3 separate regions of the Homo sapiens genome follow, and all the other regions are reported to be linked to region 1. Evidence: microRNA targets listed by miRTarBase, many of them from high-throughput screens and not tested one by one. Region 1 holds a microRNA gene; each other region holds the end of a gene's coding sequence.

Region 1 (4,000 bases):
ATCCAGTTCTCACAGCTACCCCCATTTTACAGATGAGGAAACAGAGGTAGAGAGATGTTAAATAGTTGCCCAATGTCATACAGCCAATAGTTAGAGGAGGTAGGATTCAAACTGAGGCAGCCTGGCTTCACAGTTACTAAACTATGAAGTTACTAAACACCTCACTATGCCTTTAGACTACCCAGTGACACAGGAAAGAAAAACTGGTATTATTGGCCACGTCACTGATTTCTGTACACTTGTAAAAGACTTACAATAAATAATAGAGTAGCATTTTTATTAAATAGTAATCCCACCCCAATCATGTGTCCTTGCTCAAAAATGAATTAGTTATAAATTTTGCATATTTTTACACAACTGTGAAATTTTATACTTAATAAACATTAATCACATAGCAATATGAAAATTCTTTATTGTTACTATGCATACTGAACTCACAGGAAATTACCCCTGAAACAATTCAGCAGTAACACCAGGAAACTGCTGCTACACAGAAAGTGCTCAATGAAGTGGCACCAGAAATGTGGCCCAGCGGGGATCCATTTTCAGCTTGGACTTCTTGCAGGAAGTAACTCTCCGTGCCAGAGGTGCTGCCACACACTTTCTCCCATGGCCACAAGCACCTGCAGGATTCTAATTCCATCAGAACAACACAGATACATAATGTTCAATTTAGGCAGCCAGAGCACTGCAGAACCATGGAGCCATTTCTGTAACTTACTGGTTGGCAACCTGCATTTGGCAGAACATACTGGACATATATCAAATGTTAAAAAGAAATCAATTGATAAAGCTCTCCACTTAGAGACACAGACTTACTTTGAGCAAGTCCTTAAGAAAAGCAAGTGGAGTGCCTCTCCCCATCCCCACCCCACCCAAGAGCTATCAATCTTCCAATCAGGATCATCACTGTCCTCTTTCATCAAATTAATCGCACAGCAGCCATTATTACCAACTTGATATCTAAAATGCCACGTACATTCTCTGTATTTATTGTACTGTTATTATTGTTCTGTGTTAGTGACTTTAACTACAAAAAACTTATATAAAGACTTTAAGGTATTTACTCACAAATTTGCTCTCCTGCATCTATGTTTACTAGAAAGTCCTTTAGTTCCTCAAACACAAAACCTCCTGCCACAATAAATCTAATCGCAACCCAAGCCTCATGTACTAAGATCAAGATCAGCAGAGGTTGGAGGTGTGTGATTCTATATGGTTGTTGTAATTTTATATTTAAAAAGACTGGCAATTTTGTTATTAATCAGGGATATAATCTGTATTAAAAAAATGGCTACAGGAATGTCATGTTCCGTTCCATTTATACCACTTTTCAGACTTAAACTGTTTTTGTTATGTATTAGAGGGGAAATATGAAACATTTGCCAGTTAGTTTACAATGGATCACATGTGGGACTAAAGAGTTTGACTCCAATCATTGATCAGATCTTCAAAAAAAGCCCCTCTCCAGAAATAGACAGGAAAATAAATCTATTCTGTACAAGACACTGCACAGCACTCAACAGATAGAAGGGTGAGAAAAACAGACTTTCACCCAAAGAAATCCACAGTCCACAATAAGGTTTAAACAGTACCCAGATGGCAACACAAGGAGCCGGAGCAGCACTGACACCTGCCATAAGTGCTAAAGACCCAAAGTAACTGCCACTGTCCTGAGAATTCCCAAGGGAGGAGGTTTGGCTTGGCCTTGCATCTCTGTTGCCTAGAGACACAGCAGTAAATATATATTGAACAACTAAATTAATAAATGCCTTTGACTACTACATACATATGCCTACTACTACTTTCATATGTAGGCATATGTATGTAGTAGTCAAAGGCATTTACATACTTCATACAAAAAGACCACTGTGTCTTAAAAGATCAGCTTTTCTCTACAGAGAAAACCATGAGAATTGAAAAAGTAGAGGGAGAAAGAGAGAAAAGACAAGAAGAGGTGAGTATCAGGAGCAACAGGGGAGGGAACAGGAGCAACCAGGACCCAGAAAGGGCATATGGAAAGCTGAGAATGCCACGAGGGAAGGAAAAGGAGGAAGTGAGGCAGGAAAGGAGCTACCCACACAGCACCAGGGTCGCAGTTTAGTCAAGAAGGCTTTAGCCTCCTCTGGGACTTCTAGTTACACTATTTGGCGTCCTGCACCACCTCAGGTGCATTCACCCTGCCCATGACACCACGGTAACTCAGTAAGTGCATAAACCATAGACTGCAGTTCCTCAGAACCGCTTATCTGAGACAGCATGCTGGTACTTCCTGAATGGCAGCCTGGCATTCTGAGATTATACTCTTCCTTCATGTATGGTGCTAGAATCGGTCCTCTCCTTTATGAAATGAAAGGGATAGTACACATTAAGACATATTTTATGAAATTTTATTGCTGTACCTTACTTTCTAAAATCCCCTCTTGCTCTTTTCCCTACACTGTTCAATAAAACCCAAAGTCTCATAACCACTAGAGTGTGCCACATCTTAAAAGATTTTTTATGAAAAGCTAAAAAGTTTAAAATATGAGTATGAAAACCCTTACCTAACTTGAAAACTATTAGGTAAAATGTTTTGTTCTCCAGAGATTTTAGATAAAAATAGGTTTTATTACTCCTTTGGGCAAAGAATGTCATTATTAAATTAAAAAAAAAAGGAAGCAGATCAAAACTCAGCACCTGTTCTATGACCTCATTTTGGAAAATATGGGGGAACGAGTATCATCACGTGAATACATATATATAATGCATGTATACATGTAGGGAATTACACACAACAAATTTAACAATGGTTATTTCTGGGTAGTGAGAGTTCCTCTTATTTCTGCTCTCTTCATAAGTAGAAATTACTTTTATAAATAGAAGAATTCTACAAATATGAAAAATAAATGTTTTTACTTTGAAAAATAAATGTGAGAAAAAATAACATGAAAAAATATTTGTTATCAACTCCATGAAGAAACAGCAAGTTTCCACCACAGCCAGTGGCCTTCTGAGTGAAGCATGGTTTTCTGCCCTACATACCAAGCCTTTAGACAAGGATCTCTTTATAAGTGCTCTGTTACTTAATACATCCATTTACATTATTACCATAAAGATGACTTTTCCAAAATAAAGCTTTCAATCTCTAGGGTCCCTGCAGGGTAATAGGAAGCATTCAGCAGATTACTGTTACTGTAATATGTTTTATTACACTTAATGACACAGATACTTCACAGTACTGGGATTTTTGTAGGTATTTAAAAATGTATCTCCTATAAAAATATATCTACTGAAAACACATATCCCATAAAATATGTAAGTAAAATATTCATGCAACAGATTATATACTATACATGAACATAAAAAACAAAACATCTTTTAAACTATTCTAAGCAATGTAGTTCCATTTAAAAACAAAGTATTTTAAGTAATGGGAAGGTTCTTCATTCTAAAAAAATAATAATGTCTCAGTCTAAGAAAGGGATACACTCAGTCCATTTGTCAACAAATACCCTCTGAGTACTAAGGATGTAGAGATGAACTAGATGCAATGCCTTCTCTCCAAAAGCTTACTATACATTAGAAAAACAAACAAATGAGTTCAATAAATGGTTCAAGTATATGATGAAGATGATGAAAGTATGTATGTGGTTCTGAGAGGGCACAAAGAATAAAAATGGTTGTCCTACCTACAAGGGTGGGGGCAGAAAAGTTTCCTAGATGACTTTTTTCACAATGCAGTTATTATTTCCTAAAAATAAATTATGAAAGTATCTATTTCTTTTACTAAGCATCTAGAAATATAGAAGAGAGTGTCAAGGGCACAGTCATAGAGATATATTAATAAAAAAATGTCTGGGCTGAGCCAACAGCGGTAAGCGGCCATCCAATCATCTCATTCACTGCATGTCATTTTTGAGCACTTATTAGGTTCTGCGCAAGGTGCTGAATAAGATGTGGTCCCTCATGTTCAACGACCTTACAGCCCACTAGCAAAGAGAAGCAGGAATAAATAATA
Region 2 (4,367 bases), not on the chromosome of region 1:
CTACCGTAGACTGTGGGGGGTCAGGCTGCCTGAATATTTCATAAAGTTATCAAACACATTTGCAGAATCCAAAGAGCTTTTGTATGAGCTAGAATACTGTCATTCCATCTGACAGACCACATTAGAATATTTGATAGGTTAAAAAAATGGAAGTGGTACAAACTAAGAAAATGCTAAAGTTCTGTTCATTTAGAACAGACTTAAGAGAGGAACCTAACAGTACAGCTCCACACTGAACTGTTTTCTCTTATTCTTACTAATGGTATCTAAGCTTTGGTTTACTCATTAGTTCAGTATGTTAATGCTAAAGTTAGTAATCCCTTAGACTTTAGTTTCCAGCTTTAACTTTTAAGACTAATTGTTTTTATTGTGCATATGTAAAATGGGATGCCTGTGAATTTAAAAAATTATTTTCATTTCTAAAAACATTAATAATCAACACGGTGATCAATACTGGGACAGAATACAGTGGGATTTTAAAAAAAAACACAATAATATTGAAACACTTCTAATGATAAGAGTGACTTCCAATAAAATCTAACATAACTTTATAAGGGGCCATTCCAGTTCTTAAAACTCTAATTAGACATAAAGCAAAATATTATTTAAAATTCCATTTTCTGACAGGATCAGAGTAAAAAAATCACTATGTGTCCTTGAGAACAGAAATAATAAAGTGACAGTTAAATATTACTATCAACAAAAAAATCTAGCTTTTACTATTTTTATAGATTTATCACTTATTTAAGTTAAAAATTAGTAAGAAGACTTGAAAAAGGCAATTTCTAGATTTATAGTAACTGTTCTATAATACAGCTTCAAAATAAGAACATGTACTTACATAAATATACTTAGCATACAGTTCTTTAAAGAATGTTGAAATGTTAATAGTGAGATCAATCAATGACAAGAAACTGTATCTTCCTCAGGAAAAAGAAACTAACCACTATACAATAAAGGCAATGACTGGAAACCCTAAATTACGTTTTGTTGTCAACAAAGTCAATTTAATTTAATAATTTAACTTTTCCACAGAATTAATCACTATTACTTCCATACCAAAGAGGTATCGGGGAAAGAGTAGATCTATGAGGATTTAAAATTATTTCCTATCTACTTCTTACTTTTAAGTTGTGGTGATTCATGGCTGTGATAAAGATTGTAATTTTCAAGAAACATACAAAAAATCCATGTTAAATAACAACAGTGGACCTTGAAGGCATGAGCTTTTGTCACTTTATTGTTAACCAATGAATATTATCCAAAATTAGAGATGTAATTGTAACTTAATTGTACAACACAAAATTATGCTAATGGTAAAAGCCTACTGGGATTTACCAAATACTCATTAGTGTATTTTTACATTGACTATATGAACATGTGCTCGCGACTGCTAATAAGTTATAATTGGTTTAATCTCTAAGAAATCCATATTGCAAATGGTTCTTGTTTAGAAAAATTCACACAGCCTTAAAAATGGATTAAATCCATTTTAATCCTAATCTACAAATAGATCATAAACAGCAAAATATAACTGATAATTTTTCAATACTGTATCAAACTGATGTAGCTATGGTAGTGCACATAATTCAAAATGAGGAAAATTAACAAAAATCCAATGAAAGTTCAGGTTTTTATCTATTATGCAATTGCTTTAAAGTGAACATTTATGTCTCAAAACATGAATAGTAGGGTCCACCATCCATTCCTTTGATGTACTGCAAGTAGGAATATTCTCTTCCATAGGATTCTGAAGCATGTGCACAACCATGGTACAACAGTCACTTCAAGGTTAACCAGCTATGTTTTGTCCTACAAAGTTCAAAAAATATATTAAACGCAACCTTTCTTTTACATAATGTCTGCCCAGATTAATCCTTTTAAAGTCAGCAAAATCAAAAAAGCACAAGAGATATTTTCAGACACAACTTGAATCTACTGTGCATGAAAATGTTTAATAAAATGGCAATTTTAATAGATAAATGTAAATTTGACTGTGTAATACCAAATGGAAAGTAGCTGAACCACACAGAGAAAACAAGGCTTTACGTATCTCCAAATTTAGCTGTTTTACAATAAACAAAGTATTAGAACATGTGAATATTAGAACCTCCTTCTAACTGGAAAGATTTCTTCAGTAAGCTATAACCGAAATTAATATAAACTAAAATTATAATTTCTAAAATAAGAATTAACAAACCAAATTTAAGTATTTTTAGTCAGAGATTGAAACAAAATAAGCACAGTGATCTAGAAACCAAATATACTGATTATGTAACTATCGTATCAAGGTACAGACATTCTTCACATGCTACAAGGTTAGCATTTCTCTCTCTCATACACACACAGAGTACACACACACACACACACACACACACACACAGTCTCTCTCTCATTCTCTCTCTCTCTTGCTCAGCCATACAACACCCCTCCAGGATGATAGTATACCAGTGAGGAGCTTACAATTTTAATACAAATCAGAATCCCACAGTTTGACTCGACAAAAAGGCAGTTAAAAATTTAGCACTCTTAAGATATTCTGAAGGAAAATGAAATTTCGAAAGTATTTCTTGATGATCGAGGCTATGGTTATGAATTATAAAACATATACCTTACACACTCCATTGTGTTTGAACAACCAGTCATCACAGATGTAGTAGTGAGGTAGTATTGTTGTCCCCTCCTCGGGACTGATGTTTTTATATGCTGCCCTTCCAGAAAAGGTCCAGGTTTTAAAAAATAACATTAGTTACCAACAAATGTATATTTTCTTTTTTTAACTAATCATTTGTTTTTCTAAATCAGTCTATAAAAGAACAAAACTTTTAAAATCTTGCAGAGGCTGTTTCATCAGTAAACTCTCCTAGGGAGCTACTACTGCTGTCTAAACCTCTGTGAAATGGTAGGCAAAAAAAGCCATCAAAGGATCACAGGAGATAAAACACCAATCAGTGTAAGCTGTTAAAGATGACTGTGATTAAATAACCAAATATCAAATATCCAATAAGGTAATTAAATTTAGATTAAAAAAAAACTAAGCACCAGCTGTACATACATTATTAAATGTTCTAATCTCTTTCCTGATTCATAGCCATATTCTACATGATGATCAAAGACTGTCCACTGTGCTACCTACCATCATTTTAAACACTGCCTGATCTGTATGATGGTGGAATTATGGCTATGGACATGGCAGATAAGAGAAGGGCACACTGAGAAAATGTGAGTGAGAGAGAATGTGGAAATAGGTTAAATATGGAAAGGGCAAGGGAAACCCATTAAAATGTTCACCATTATCCTTTAAAATGTACACAGAACTGAAACCACACATACACATTTGTCAGACGTGATAATTAGTGTTAATCTTCAACAGAAAAAAAAAAGAAAAAGAAAAAAAATGTGAAAAGAGGCAATGGAACACCATTCTCCATTCCCTGGACCAAAAGAAAAAAGAAAACCAAGCATGATATCATACTGCCTTAATGTTGAAGAGCTCCCCTTAAATTTGTCTTTTAGCTAGCACAGTCAAACTGGTGTAAGTGCTTTGGCAAGGTGGGATGCATTCCATCATATCTGCAAAGGCCTGCTTTTCTCTGTTGGTGGTTCAGCTTATGAAGAACATATATGCAAAATAACAGCTCTCACATTGCTTCAAACTCATCGATACGCTGCTTTGTATTGCCTTGTCGAATCTGTCGCAGAGTCTTGTACTTATCACGGCCTGCTTTAACATTCTCAGCATGAAGAACATCATTTTGTGTTTTCTTGGTTTCATCTCTGGCTTGGGCTAATTCTGAACTTAATGCCTATTTAAAAAATAAAAAGTACAACTATTATTTTTTTCTTAGATTTAAAAAAATTTATGAAAATGGCTTTAAGATGCAAAAATACATATACCAAATCATTTCCACTGTGAAACCTTTTTCTTTAGGTATAAGTTTGTTTTAGTAATAGTGGTGGCAGTGGTAAGGGAGGAATACACATGGCCTTTCCACATTTATCAACCATGGTATTTTGTACATTATTCTAAATTTCCTTAACTTTCTAATCTAATACTTGAAATGGCTAAAAAGTTCAATGTAGCCATTACAGACTAATATTACTATGAGATTTAAAATCTATACCTCAAGGGAAGCCTTCTCCAAAAGTCTTAATACATTTATTGTAACTATCACCTCATTTTCTTTTAATATTTAAAGATTTTAACAATTAAAATATTAGATAACTTATTGGGAAAAAAGAAAGCTCATAATATTAAAATCCTCTACTTTGACCTAGTTATGTCCATGTAATATACTGACCTTTTGCCAATATAAAATCTCAACAAATAATTAAGATTATGTAATGTCTTAAACATAGTATATTAA
Region 3 (4,367 bases), not on the chromosome of region 1:
AGTGAGAAATGTTTAATCCTGCATATACCTAATAATTGTGTCTTCTGGTAGGTTTTACACAAAAATGGAGAGCTTTCTGACTTGGTGATGGGCATGTGAATGTGTAGAGGCATGCATATATGCAATTTTACACCTTTTAGTAACGTATTAGCATGAAATAGGATGGAATTTGACACTTCCTGTTAATCTCCTTTGTGAGATGGCCACAGAATGCTTGAAAACTTGTTTCTCCTCCTATGCCTTCAGCACTGGCAGCATGCTATCATTTCATAGCTGCTCCTTAGGCTGCCAGTTTTTTGTTTGTTTGTTTGTTTGTTTTGAGAGGGAGTCTCGCTCTGTCCCCCAGGCTGGAGTGCAGTGGCGCGATCTCACTGCAAGCTCCGCCTCCCGGGTTCACACCATTCTCCTGCCTCAGGCTGCCAGTTTTGACCAAATTACTTCCATTGGCTGACTGCAGTGGCCTTGAGAAAATCATATTATTGATGAGTTGCCAGACAAGTTACTTTTATCACTCAAGGAACAACCAAATGTTGGAGTAATAAATCACAAGGAATACAAGGAATATTTGGGGTAAAAACTCCAAAAAGTTTGAGTTTTGAAAGACTTAATCAGTGGGAATAGATAAGAATGATATACTTTAACGCTTATGAGGAAGTCTTAAAAAAAGGATTCTACTAAAATGTTAGCCTTATTTCTGCTTTTTTCCCCCTTCTCTTTCTTTCATATTTTTTCTTTTTTCCAGGAGCATGGCCTGTTCTTATTGATGACTTTGTGGAATTTGCACGCCCTCAAATTGCTGGGACAAAAAGTACAACAGTGTAGCACTAAAGGAACCTTCTAGAATGTACATAGTCTGTACAATAAATACAACAGAAAATTGCACAGTCAATTTCTGCTGGCTGGACTGAACTGAAGATCAATCCTCACAATTCAGACTGAGGGTTGAGACAAAACTTTAAGGATACATCTTGGACCATATCGTATTTCATTCTTCTAATGGTGGTTTGGGCTTGTCTTCTAGTCTGGGCCGCTCTAAACATTTATAATTCCAACATTGTGGATTTCATCTTATATCTGTGGACCATCCTAGTTTATTCTCCCATAAGTCTTAGAAGCTTTATGGTGATTATTTTGAGGTTTTCATTCTCGCATAAAGCACAATGCTGTCTTCATCAGAAAACAGTTGGCATAAGAATTAAACATATGAACATCACAAAACAATTTATAAAAACTTCTTAAATATACGCTTTGGGCTAGTTGCAAAGACTATGCTAATAGCACTTCCAGTGAGAGTGATATATTTAAGTGTACTGGATCTGGAATGGTGTTTTGGTTTGGGGGGAATTTTTTTTTTTTCCTGGCAAATCACATGTGTTGTTGATGTGAGTATCTGATGAAAAAACAATGTCAGAATAACCGACATGAAAATTTTTTAGGATAACTTGGTGCCTACCTGAAAAATGTATTGTGTTTTAGACTCTTGATTTCAAAAGGTTCCACAGAACTAGTCTGCGCTTACCTTACCCATGTTTATATATAGCTGTCCTACAGGGAGCTTTTATTTAGAAAATGTCTGCATAATGTTAGATTCTTCTCCTGTCTACATTATGCACTACATAATTGGACTTCATTATGCTTTTGAAATGCTTATCTGCCTGTCACATAAGTTAAACTATTTAATTTGTTTTGAATGTTTTGGATTGCTACACAATACAATATTCTAAATTTAGGCATGAGGGTTTTTTTGTTTTGTTTTTACTTTTTTTTTGTCATCGCACTATGGAACACAAATGGAATTCTCTTAATTTATAAGAAGATAGTTGCAGTTAAATTTTGAAAATGGTTGTAATGAGCCATGAAGTTCAATCTTTATAATATAGGTACTGCTCTTTCAGACAAATAGTCCATTTTCGATGACTTATTATTTTGTTGAAATTGCTTTAACTGCTAATCACTGTGGTTGCCAAATATTTACTTCAGGAGCAAAGATTTTCAAACAAGCATACACGATGCAAAATACCAATCTGGCTTCTAGTCTCTTTACTGTTTTCGTTTCACTCAGATTAGCTCAGTTTTCTCATCAAAGCAGAATGCTATCTTGTATGTATTTTTTTCATTACAAGCCCCATGAGCTGCTTTTATGCTGAAAATGGTCATTTCCCTGTTCACTTACTGACATGTGAAGAAGGGTTTCTTGCTTTCTTAAACATTTCCGTAAGGCAGGCTAGAAATGTAATACTTCAAATGTTTGATGATTATGGTCTTTTGATAGGAATAGATTCTGCTTGGGATATATATCCAGGCACTCTCTAAGGTCTAGGGTTGATATTAACAAAGGAATGTACTTAGAATAGCAGTACATTTTATGCAAATATGGAAATTATTTTAAGAAACAATGACATATCAAAACTGCTTTTTACATGATTTTGAAATAGACTAGAAAGCTTTCCCTATAGACATATTAATATTCCAATCATAACTTTAATTCAAGAATGCAGTTTTACCAAAAGAAAAATTTGAAAATTTCTATTCAGGCTACTGGAATTGGTTATTAAAAGAAAAAGGAAAAAGAAGAATCTTGCTGCTTTCAGTATTTCCTGATTTTTTTGTAAATATAAAGAGGAACTTCAATTATGAAAAATTTTTAAAAGATATATATATCTATATATCTATATATATGTACTGTTTTGTTTCCTGTCTTGAAGATTTTGAGTTATGGTTATTGGTTTCAGATTGATTAATTCACATATGCTGTGTTTTGAAATGAGATCCCATTAGCTTTTTTTTTTTTTTTTTTTTTTCAATATAAAGTGTTTTCTTTAAAAGTCATATTGGTTCGTGGCCTAGTGCCTTGGATTTTACATATTTTTCTTTTTAAATGCAAAACCTTTTCAACAAAATAGTGTTTGTCATCAGGTTGGTACTAAACATTTATAATTACTGTGTAATTATAAACAAAAATACATAAAGCTTTGAATATAATTATGTAGCATAAAAGTTAAGGTTGTTCACTATGATGGCATCTTAGAATTAAACAAAACTTTTACTAGGGCTGAAAAGAGAAGACTGATTTAATGTGGTGTGATTATTCTGAAGATAAATGTCTGGCTACAGGGAATATTTTGTACTAAAAAATGATTACACATATGGCTGTGTGTGTTTGAGTCTGTGTCTGTGAGAGAGCCAGAGAGAGTGAGAGAGATTGACAGAGAAAGGGAGAGACACACACACGCCCCTTGAATTGCTTTAACTCCTAAGTGTTTCAGTCCTCATTCCGGTAAACTCCCCATGCTGATTCTTTGTTTTAAACTGAACCATAGGTACAGTTTCCTTTTTGCCAAATGTCAAAACAGGTACAAATTTTAAAATGTAATGCTTTTTAAATAGAAAAATGTATAAAATTAGAAGTGCCCACATATAAAAAATACTTGAGATGAAGATTATCTTTAGTGAATATCATCTGCATATCTCTGTAAGTTCAATTGTGTTTCTTACAGTCCCTGTCATATTACCAACAGAGGCAATAAAAGCTGCAGTGAAATTGCCATGACTAAATCTTTTCACATATTTCAGTGTATTTTTTTTATAGATTTAAAATATACCTGAAAACTTTTCTAGGAAGAATAATTATTCATGGAAAGAGCATTGTAATGGCATGTTTTGGGGAGAAAAGACATGCCAAGTCTTGTTTACTACATTTAAGATGTTTACAACTATACTGGGCTGCTTTATTAACAATACTGTACTTGCATAATATGGCATTATAAGTACATGTCCTTCCTTAGACTTTTAAAAAGTTTTAATGAGAGAAAGTAAATTTACTCAACAAAATAACATGAGAAATCCTTTACGTAATATCTTTACTGGGGAATTCTTATTTAAGCAAGGTACACTATTTTTTCCTCAGACTTAAATGAATGAAGTGTTCATTTATTTTTTATTTGATGATAATCAAGAAGTGAGTAGTAGTAGCTAACTTAATGTACACTTTGCTTAGGTTTTTAAACATGTTACTATTAAGACTACGTATTGTAAACCTTCTGTAATTTTCACATATGAATGACAGGAGAAAGTTAAACCTAATCGAAGGAGTTTTGGAATAAAAAAGTGGTGCTGGGGAAATTCACCATGGTTCACAAAGTATGCCTTTGTAAAACTGAATCAACTTTTAGCAAGAATTAATTTATGTAGTTTTAAATGTTAAATTGTGTATATTTAACAGAAAATACTTATCTGGCACCTCAGCAGTTTTAATGTTACCTTATACTTTTAACAGTATGATTTATATTGAATACTTAGATGTTTTCATAAGATTTTATCAAATTTGATAATGTAATGATAAAATGTTTTTTTAAATGTGAACTATT

What was found. The annotated mature microRNA hsa-miR-7852-3p reads UAUGUAGUAGUCAAAGGCAUUU and lies in region 1 at 1,825-1,846, shown strand. An mRNA with a match to its seed (bases 2 to 7 or 8) in the 3' UTR can be bound and repressed. Matches are read on the target gene's strand: a 7mer-m8 pairs with bases 2 to 8, a 7mer-A1 pairs with bases 2 to 7 and ends in A, and an 8mer does both.
Region 2: miRTarBase lists RDX as a target of hsa-miR-7852-3p. Seed matches in the 3' UTR shown: 7mer-m8 at 2,652-2,658.
Region 3: miRTarBase lists DCUN1D1 as a target of hsa-miR-7852-3p. Seed matches in the 3' UTR shown: 8mer at 1,612-1,619 and 7mer-m8 at 3,692-3,698.

Annotation. Positions count from the first base shown.
Region 1 is chr1:107,895,458-107,899,457 of GRCh38, forward strand. MIR7852 (microRNA 7852) reads left to right here and starts at 1,766; the gene lies at 1,766-1,847. All of the region lies in intron 1 of VAV3 (vav guanine nucleotide exchange factor 3), which reads right to left.
Region 2 is chr11:110,228,228-110,232,594 of GRCh38, forward strand. It overlaps RDX (radixin), which reads right to left. Exons shown (of 14, transcript NM_002906.4): 14 at 1,214-3,806. The coding sequence ends at 3,642. Among named protein-coding and RNA genes, the nearest start is that of RDX, 66 kb to the right of the region's middle.
Region 3 is chr3:182,941,549-182,945,915 of GRCh38, reverse strand. It overlaps DCUN1D1 (defective in cullin neddylation 1 domain containing 1), which reads left to right. Exons shown (of 7, transcript NM_020640.4): 7 at 743-4,367. The coding sequence ends at 822. Among named protein-coding and RNA genes, the nearest start is that of DCUN1D1, 37 kb to the left of the region's middle.